Regions from separate parts of the Homo sapiens genome. Here region 2 is linked to region 1. Evidence: fine-mapped expression QTL. A gene starts in region 1. The other region holds a variant in brackets. All regions are shown on one strand. Distances are between the middles of the regions. Region 1 holds the start of FOXD3 (forkhead box D3). Region 2 has its middle 87 kb from the start of LINC01739.

The links. PIP is the estimated chance that this variant, and not a neighbour inherited with it, causes the effect. A credible set is the group of variants that fine-mapping cannot tell apart.
Region 2: its variant is the best candidate, but not a certain one, in a credible set for the expression of FOXD3 in skeletal muscle (GTEx, PIP 0.87).

The regions. Positions count from the first base shown.
Region 1 is chr1:63,320,513-63,324,896 of GRCh38, reverse strand. FOXD3 (forkhead box D3) reads right to left here and starts at 2,330. Exons shown (of 1, transcript NM_012183.3): 1 at 1-2,330. The coding sequence starts at 1,838. The coding sequence ends at 402. FOXD3-AS1 (FOXD3 antisense RNA 1) reads left to right here and starts at 456. Exons shown (of 3, transcript NR_121637.1): 1 at 456-542; 2 at 3,434-3,530; 3 at 3,707-4,013. RefSeq lists an enhancer at 1,200-1,889 and silencers at 2,213-2,292, 2,413-2,722.
Region 2 is chr1:63,096,783-63,101,166 of GRCh38, reverse strand. No RefSeq gene overlaps it. Among named protein-coding and RNA genes, the nearest start is that of LINC01739, 87 kb to the right of the region's middle. The variant A/G (reference allele first, on the strand shown) is at 1,685.

The DNA.
Region 1 (4,384 bases):
TACGGAATTTGTTTTTTCTTAAAAAAATAAAAACCCCAAAAGGAAAGTCAATAATTTTTTTACAAATATATACAAAGAATTTCCCTCCCATCCCCACGGTACTAAGAGCAGGCGCCGTCGGGGTGCATTTTTGGAAAATTCGGTTTTCGGTTTTACCTGTATGGAAAGCTATCCCCGGCGGGCGCGCGGTGAGTTTGCTCGACCAGCTTAGGTGTGCGCGAGGGGATGGAGGCCGCGGAAGGTAGGCGTTGGGGGCTCAGGGGAAAGGAAATTGGGGAGAGGCAGAGTCCAGGATTGGGCAGCGGGACCGGGACCGGGCTTGGGACAGGGCGCGCAGCCTGGAGGTGCATTTGTTGCTCGAGGCCGCCGCCGGACCCTGGGTCCCGGCCATTGGCGCGTCCCTATTGCGCCGGCCATTTGGCTTGAGCGGCGGCCGCAGCAGCGGCGGCGGCCGAGGCTGCGGGCTGCAGAAACTGTCCGGAGAGTGGCACGCTAAGAATGGGCGCGATGGTGGCAGTCGTCCGGCTCAGCGACAGCGGTTGGTGGGTGGCCATGAGCGCTGCCGACTGCACGGTCCCGGGTGGCCGCAGAAACGACTGCGCCGTGCTGCCGCCCCCTGAACCCCCAGTGCCGCCGGCGACCCCAGCGCCCACCGCCGAGCCCCCAGGAGCCGCGGGGCCCCCACCTATGATGTTCTCGATGCTGAACGACGGCCGCGCGCTTGGCTCGGACTTGATGAGCGACGCGGTGGTGCCCGCGGCGCCCGCTGTGCCCGCAGCGGCCGCGGCGGCGCCCAGGCTATTGAGCTGCAGCTGCAGGCCCGGGCCGAGCTGTGAGCCGAAGGCGGCCGCTTTGCGGCCCAGCTCGCCCGAGGGCAGCAGCGGCACAGCGGGAGGCAGCACCGGTGCCACCGGCGGCAGCGCGTACGGGTACTGGAGCGCCGCCGCAGCAGCCGCGGCCGCCGCCGCTGCCGGGTGCGAATAGGCACCGGCCGCCGCCGCAGGGTGCAGGCCGTAGGGGCGGCCGTAGGGTCCCGCGGCGCCGGCCGCCGCCGCCAGGCTGTAAGCGCCGAAGCTCTGCATCATGAGCGCCGTCTGCTCGCGCAGGTGCTCCTGCTGGTGGCGCTTGAAGCGTTTCCGGCGCCGCAGGAAGCTGCCGTTGTCGAACATGTCCTCGGACTGCGGGTCCAGGGTCCAGTAGTTGCCCTTGCCCGGGTTGCCCGGCTCGCGGGGGATCTTGACGAAGCAGTCGTTGAGTGAGAGGTTGTGGCGGATGCTGTTCTGCCAGGCGGGGAACTTCTCCCTGTAGTAGGGGAAGCGGTTGCTGATGAACTCGCAGATGCCGCTCAGGGTCAGCTTCTTCTGCGGGCTCTGCAGGATGGCCATGGTGATGAGCGCGATGTACGAGTAAGGCGGCTTCACTAGGCTGTTCTTGGGCTTGCTCGGGGCCAGGCCTCCCGCCGAACCGCTGCCCGCGCCAGGCCCGCCGCCGCTCGCGCCGCCCTCCTCGCCGCCAACACCGCCCTTGCAGCCGTCCGCCTCCGGCGCGCCCACGTCGCCCCCCGGTCCGGCCCCGGCTCCGGCCGCCTCCTTGGGCAATGTCAGGGGCTGCTGGTGGGGCGGCTGAGGCTGTCCGTGATGGGGTGCCGCCGGGGGCACCTCGTCCGCCTCGTCCAGGCGCAGCTCCGGCGGCCCCGCGGGGCTATCGCAACCTGCGTCGCTGTCCTTCTCTTCCAGCCCGTCGTCGCCCTCGCCCACCACATCGATGTCCACGTCCTCGGCCGTCAGCACCGTCTGGCCGGACATGTCGCTGGCGCTGCCGCCGCCGGAGAGGGTCATCCCTCCTCGGGGTTGGTAGCGGCGGCGGGGAGGGGGCAGCGGGCGATGAGGGTGTTCGGGGGCTGCCACGGAGCTCAGGGGAAGAGGGTTTGAGTGCCCCCGAAAGATGGGGGGCAGGGAGAGGGGAGGGGGCCGCAGGTGGCTTGGGGCCCGCTGGGCTCAGCTCACACTCGGCGGCCCCGCATCGCGTGGCGCGGGCTCTGCCGTCCGCCCCCAGCGGCCGCGCTCCGCGAACTCCTGCCGTCCCTGGCGCTCGGTACTAGGCGCTCGCTACCGCTCCCGGCCCCGGCGGTTCTCCACGCCGCGCCCCCTCACTTAGCCCGCCTTCCTCGGCCTCTGGCCCTGGCGTGGGGCGCAGGAGCGGTCCAGGCGGGCGCGGGACGCCGGGCGCCGAGCAGCTCGGGAGGGCGCGGGCAGGGACAGTAGCGGGGGGGCAGGGGGCTGGGTGTCAGGGACGCCGAAGCCCCGGTAGTCGAAAGTCCCGTTTTAAGGACTGGCCTGATAGATTACTTTCTACTTAAAGATCCAGCGGGAGGCGGGGCCACGTGACCGTGCGTGACGTCAGGGCCGCGGCCGAGCCGGCCAAACTCAAGTTGGTTCAGGGAATTGTCAACAAAGGGACGAGAGACGCGCAACTCCGCTCCGCACTGTGCGCCAGCATCCCCGGGGCACGGAGGGCGCTGCGGCCCGCCCGGAGACCCCCCCACCCAGGCTGGATCCGGGCCCTGGGGCCCAGGGAGCGGGTGGGTGTGAGTGTGGGTGGGTGTGAGCGAGTCAGGGCGTGGGCCTGGGAGCGTCCGCGGGACTGTGCGACTGTCGCTGCCCTGCCTTCCCCGCCCCCTCTCCCTTCCGCCCTTCTCCCCCCCACTTTGTCACACTCCTTAGACAGGGACTGGGCGACCTAGAACGAGGTTCCCATATCGTGTTTTAAAAAGCAAAACTTAGTCTCTGTTTTGCTTTTTGTTTCATTGTTTTTAGCTTTAAAGAGTAAGAGCAGCGCACCCGGCTCCCTCCTGCTAATTAGATTTCAGATTCCCCTCTGGCCTCAGTGCTCATTCCGGGGAAGACACCTGCTGAGATGTCTTTTTCCCCCTCCCCCAACCAAACCACTCAGGTCCTACCTGCTCTTTCCCGGCTTGATGCGGGCGTGTTTTCCTGTATGTATTTTTTCGTGCGGCCACAAAAAGCATCAGCTGGGGTTCCCGAAGGTCAGAAAATGGCTATTGATTAATCTACTAGAATAGTTGCCGAGAGAAATAAAAACGACGTAAAATAGCAGGGAACCTATAAATAAAGAAGCCATAACTGGCTACTTGGAGTTGTTAAACGACTTAGCATATGAAAAAATCGGAAATGAGGCGCTGGGGAAGGAGCTGGGATTGGCAGCGGCCTGGGTAAGTCGAGTGGATCCGGGAAGAGGCCTGGTGTCTTCAGGTTAGACGCAGCGCCCAGGGGCGGCTGAAGAAACGTGAGGGGTGCGGGCAGTGACTTCCCGGGCGGCGGGCATGGCCTTGGGGGAACCTGGGCAGACTTGGGCATGCCAGCATGCTGGGATCTCCGTTGCTGCCAGCTAACGTGGATTTTCTTCTCTTAAGGTGTGGACAAATCCTCCAAGATTTAACTTCCAAGAAAACCGGCGGCGGAGCGGGTGGAGGAGGCGAGGATGTGTGGCCAATGCACGCGGAGTGCAAGGCAAGTCAGTGATAGTAGGAAAAACTGTGGGGATTTCACTGGGACTGGAGGGGGAGGCACCGCAAACCGACCCCCAAGTGCGTGGCTGGGGTGCGTGGACCTCACACCTCCAAGGAAAGTCAGTGCTCTTGACGCGGTGAATCAGCGATGCGCCTCCTCTTTCCTCCCTCATTTAGGCCGCCTAGTTGGGAGCCGCAAGAGCCTGCCTGGTGTGGCAGGCACACGGAACCCAATCCCTGTCTGTCCGCTGCGGCCTGGGAGGGGAGCGCCGGCCTCACCAGAGGAAGGAGCACGAGGGGAGGAGTTCCGAGAGGAAATAATTAGTGAAATATTTGCAGAAGATGCTGGGATGTGGATTTAATTCCGGATGGACAGTGGTGCTTCTGATTCCCTCAGTCTGTTTCCCCACCCACGATCTCCTCTTTCCTTGGCCTAGACACACCAAAAATAATTCAATAAAATAAAAATAAAAATTTAAAAATCTGTAAACTTGCTTCATTACAGGCATTGAGACACACAGATTGACTTTCATCCCCATTAGACAGTTTCCCAGGATATAACACTACTCATCTGAGGCTGGGAGCAGGGTAGGGGGTGGTGACACTATCCTGAGACGCCCGCCAACCTCCACAGTTTTTCTTTATCTAAATGATCCCGAGGTTGCACACGGCCCTAAAACGCATCTCAGAGTTGATTTCCGTAGCTCCACAGCTTTGTGGCCCGCAGGCTCCGAACCGTTTACAATGCCGTCTAGACAGCTTTCCGCGAAACCGACCCGAGCTGAGCTGGCTGGCCATCGCCCAGGACTGCAGAGGTCGCGTCTGCAACTGCCTCAGCAACCGAAGTGTCGGAAG
Region 2 (4,384 bases), 220 kb after region 1:
GTTTCCAAGCCACATTTTGAGAAATATATTTTTGGATTGGAAAAGAATGAGCTTTTGAAATCACTGAAGCAGGCAACACAATATAGTAGATAATAACAACAACAACTACTACCAGTTATTGTGAGCATACCAAGTGTCAAGCACTGGGAAAATGTTTTCCCCATGTGATCTCATTTATTCCTATTACAGCATCAGAGAAGGTAAGTAAGTTCCCAAGGTGGTCCAGTTAGTACATTGAGGGCTAGGATTTTAACCTAATTTTCAGGACTCCAAAGACTGTGTTCTTAATAGTTCTAATAATAACCTTCATCATGGGATTGTTATTGGGTCCAAATGATATACACCATATATAGACATGTTTTATAAACACTAAAGCTCTGTATAAATGTCCATTTACTATCATTATCAGAAAGTGATTGACCTGATGACATTCCACAGGGTCAACTGTGCTTCTGGAGGTAACTGAATGCCAGCTCTGTGTATATCTAAAAATTCTGATTATTTTATGCATTTTTTTTTTTTTGGCCTCTGTTTTATTCGAAGAACTGTTTTCTTTTCTCTACACCTGATCTTTCCAAATTAGATCTGTCGACAGGGTGGCTGAATGGTGAGTGGCTCTCCTGTGTCTTTCTAGGGATGCCCCTGCAGAGCCATGCCGAGGATAACTGAGGGAATTATGGAGAGCTGGCCACACTCTGCTTCTATTTGTTTTGAGCCTGGGAAACAGCAGCTGTCCTAAAATCACCCTGATTCAGAATTCTTCCAAACCAGAACACAGCAGATTCACAAGAATCAAGTGATAAAACTCACCACATTCTCATTTCAGAGGGGAGGAAAGAATCCCAAATGTAAATTTCAGTTCTCTGTGTTCCAAGTACCCCCCCTTCCATTCCCTGCCAACATCTTATTGGCATTCGACTTAAAAATGCATTTTCATTTTACATAATGGATTAATCACACCATGGATTTTTTCCTAATTCATGTCCTTAGGACATATATAATATCTGTTATCTAAGAAAATGTTTATTTGTTTTGTTCTATTGCCCAATAAGCTTATTATAAGTTCAGGCTAGTGTGTGTGTGTGTGTGTGTGTGTGTGTGTGTGTGTGTGTTTACACAGAGAATGTACCACATTAAAACCAGGAAAAATTATCTTTTAAATTATTCCTTGATGTAGAGCAAATCAATCCAGTTTCTTATACCTACTGGAGAAGCACAAATGGTGCTGGAACATCTTCAGAGTGGTTTATGCCCTTGGCAGGTCAATCAGAGGGTAGCTGAAACTGAAGAAGTCATACGCCATGGTGCCAGCGGAAATGAAAATTATACCACTCATACTAACGAGTGCATTTCCAAAGGGACTATTTAGCGGTATTAGAAGTCTCTAAGCAGATGCCTCTGAACTTAAAATACACTTAATTCCTAAGAATTGTCTTGTAATTAATTTACCCAGATAGACTCAATGAGGAGAATGTAGGGCAAAGCACCACATTGCTCAGCAGTTTGCAAACTTCAGGGAACACTAAGATAAATAATTTGATTTTTTTAAACTTCTAAATTCATTTCCCTTATAACTGAGAAACAGGAATGGCATACAGTAAAGAAAAGCACTTTCTGATTCTATAATATAATCTCCTTAAAAAAATTCTTACTACTGTAACAGGAAGGATTCCATGGAGCTGAC[A/G]TCAAAAGAATATCACTCATGCTTTGGATATAGCTTTTATGCCTATTAACTTGTCTGTCTGTAAACATTTCATTGAACGTGGGAAGCTAGCTCCTGACTGTTTTAGTTATACACACAGTGCTGTACAGCAACAAACAGCTTTAACATACCTCCCATTAACACAGCTTGTATTTCATGAAGAACAGCCAGGTCTCATGTGACTGCTAACAGCTGTATTTTTCTAGTATTGAGGAATCTAATTTAAAAAGTGTTCAGATTTTTTCGAGGTTTTGGTAAAAATTTGATAAAACAGTTCTATCTCTGGAGGTTAAAGGTACAGTGGTGTGATCTTTGGATGGGCCACTATATCAATGGGGAGGTTCTTTTGTCAAGCCTTTTGGGTTTTTTTTTTTTTTTTCTAGCAGCTTAGACTTTGGACCCACTTGGATCAGAGTCCCAGTCTGGTTCTCTCTTTGACCTTAAGGAAACTTCTTAACCTATATAGGACTCAGTTTAATTACTTATTAAAATAAAATGATGATAATGATAACAATAGGTGGCATTTGAAGGATGGGGAGGTAATGTACATAATTTACCCTAAATAGTGCCTGGTACAGACTCTATAGGTAGTAGTTTATTATTACCATCTGCTTTTACACCAGGTCAGCTTACTCATTTATTCTATCCCTTAAAAGATATTTATCACACACTTCCTCTGTGCCCTGCAGTGTGCATGGCGTTTTTACATATCTCATATCAACCTTATGAGTAGGTTTCATGATCACCATTTCATAGATGCAAATACTGAAGCTCGAAAGGTTAAGGAATGTGCTCAAGGTCATATAGCTGGTAAGGAATGCAGCCAGAGTTGGCACCCACGTCCACCTTTAATAAACCCATATTCGTGTTTACTAGGCATGAAGCACCAAACTAGGCACTAGGGAGACTGAGATGAATGAGACATGCCTCCTCCACTTCCAAAAACATCACCTTCTATTTGGGGTTGAACAGAGCAGAGGGAGCACCAAATAAGCCAGACCATGACAAATTCTATCATTGTGGTATGAAAGAGATGTTCAGGATCATCACAGAGTATGTAACTAACGACGGGAGAAACTGGGAAGGAGGTCACACAGGAGGTGACTTTTGGAGCTGGATCTGGAAAAATGAATGAGATTTAACAGATAAAGAAGGCAATTCCTTGTAGAGGGAATCTGCTACACAAGGCATGAAGGCTTGGGGTATTTGAAGGATGTTGAGGAATCCTGAGTTTACATCCCCACCTCGTGTCCAGTGACACTGGGCTGGTCATTCTCCTTTCGTTTCTTTCCATCTTTCCTTCCTTTCCATCTTTCGTTCCTTTCCATCTTTCCTTCCTTCCTTCTTTTCTTTCTTTTTTTTTTATTATTATACTTTAAGTTTTAGGGTACATGTGCACATTGTGCAGGTTAGTTACATACGTATACATGTGCCATGCTGGTGCGCTGCACCCACTAACTCATCATCTAGCATTAGGTATATCTCTCCATGCTATCCCTCCCCCCTCCCCCATCCTTCTTTTCCTTCTTTCTTTCTTTCTTTCTTTTTCTCTTTCTTTCTTTCTTTCTTTGTTTCTTTCTTTCTTTCTTTCCTTCTTTCTTTCTTCTTTCTTTCTTTCTTTCTTTCTTTCTTTCTCAGTGTCTCACTGTGTCACCCAGGCTGGAGTGCAGTGGTGCAATCATGGCTCACTGCAGCCTCCAATTCCCAGGCTCAATGATCCTCCCACCTCAGCCTCCTAAGTAGCTGGAACTACAGGTGCACATCACCACACCCGGGTAACTTTTGTATTTTTTGGAGAGATGGGGTTTCCCCATGTTGCCCAGGCTGTTCTTGAACTCCTCAGCTCAAGTGATCCACCTGCCTTGGCTTCCCAAAGTGCTGGGATTACAGGCATGAGTCACTGCACCCAGCAGTTATCCACCTTTCTGCCCCTCCATCTGTTGGAATAAAAACACCGGGTGACTATGGAGATCAAAAGATGAGTGCATAGAAAGCATGTAGCACAGTACCTGGTACAATAAAACTGAGCTGCTGTTTTATACCTCGATGTCTTTGCTCATACTGTTCCCTCATGCCGTAGTGTATCACCACCTTCTGAGACCTCCCACCTCAGCTAACTTCTCACCCACTTACTTCCTCTCATTATGGCTCAGCAGAGGGCTAATATGCCCTGGAACGGTGCTTCTCACCTTTGGTGTATAAGCAAATCATCTGGGCATCCTGTTGCCCAGTGCAGATTCTGATTTGGCAGGTCTGGAGTGGGGCTGGCTTTCTCACAAGCCTCCAGCTGCTGCTGCTGCTGCTGGTTGCAGGACCACACTTGAAGGAGTAGGGCACTACACAGTGTTTCCCAGAGTGGCATCTGCATTTCTAGCAAGCTTCCAGTAATGCCAGATCTACTGGTCCACAGACTATACTTTGATGAGTGAGTCTAAAGCACCATATCAATGTCCATTTTTCAGAGTCCTTCAATGAGCAGAGCTTCACCTTTCTTTCCACTCTTTTCTTCTCCTTCACAGAATGATCCGTTCCAGCCAAACTGGACTCATTTGTGTTTTCCTGAGTGCACTGTCTGCACTGCTCTGGACAGCTGTACTTGAACCCTGACCTTCTCTGTGACCCACAGAGGCCTGTGCACACCTCCATCATGGCACTTACCACGCTGTGTTGAAATCCATATTT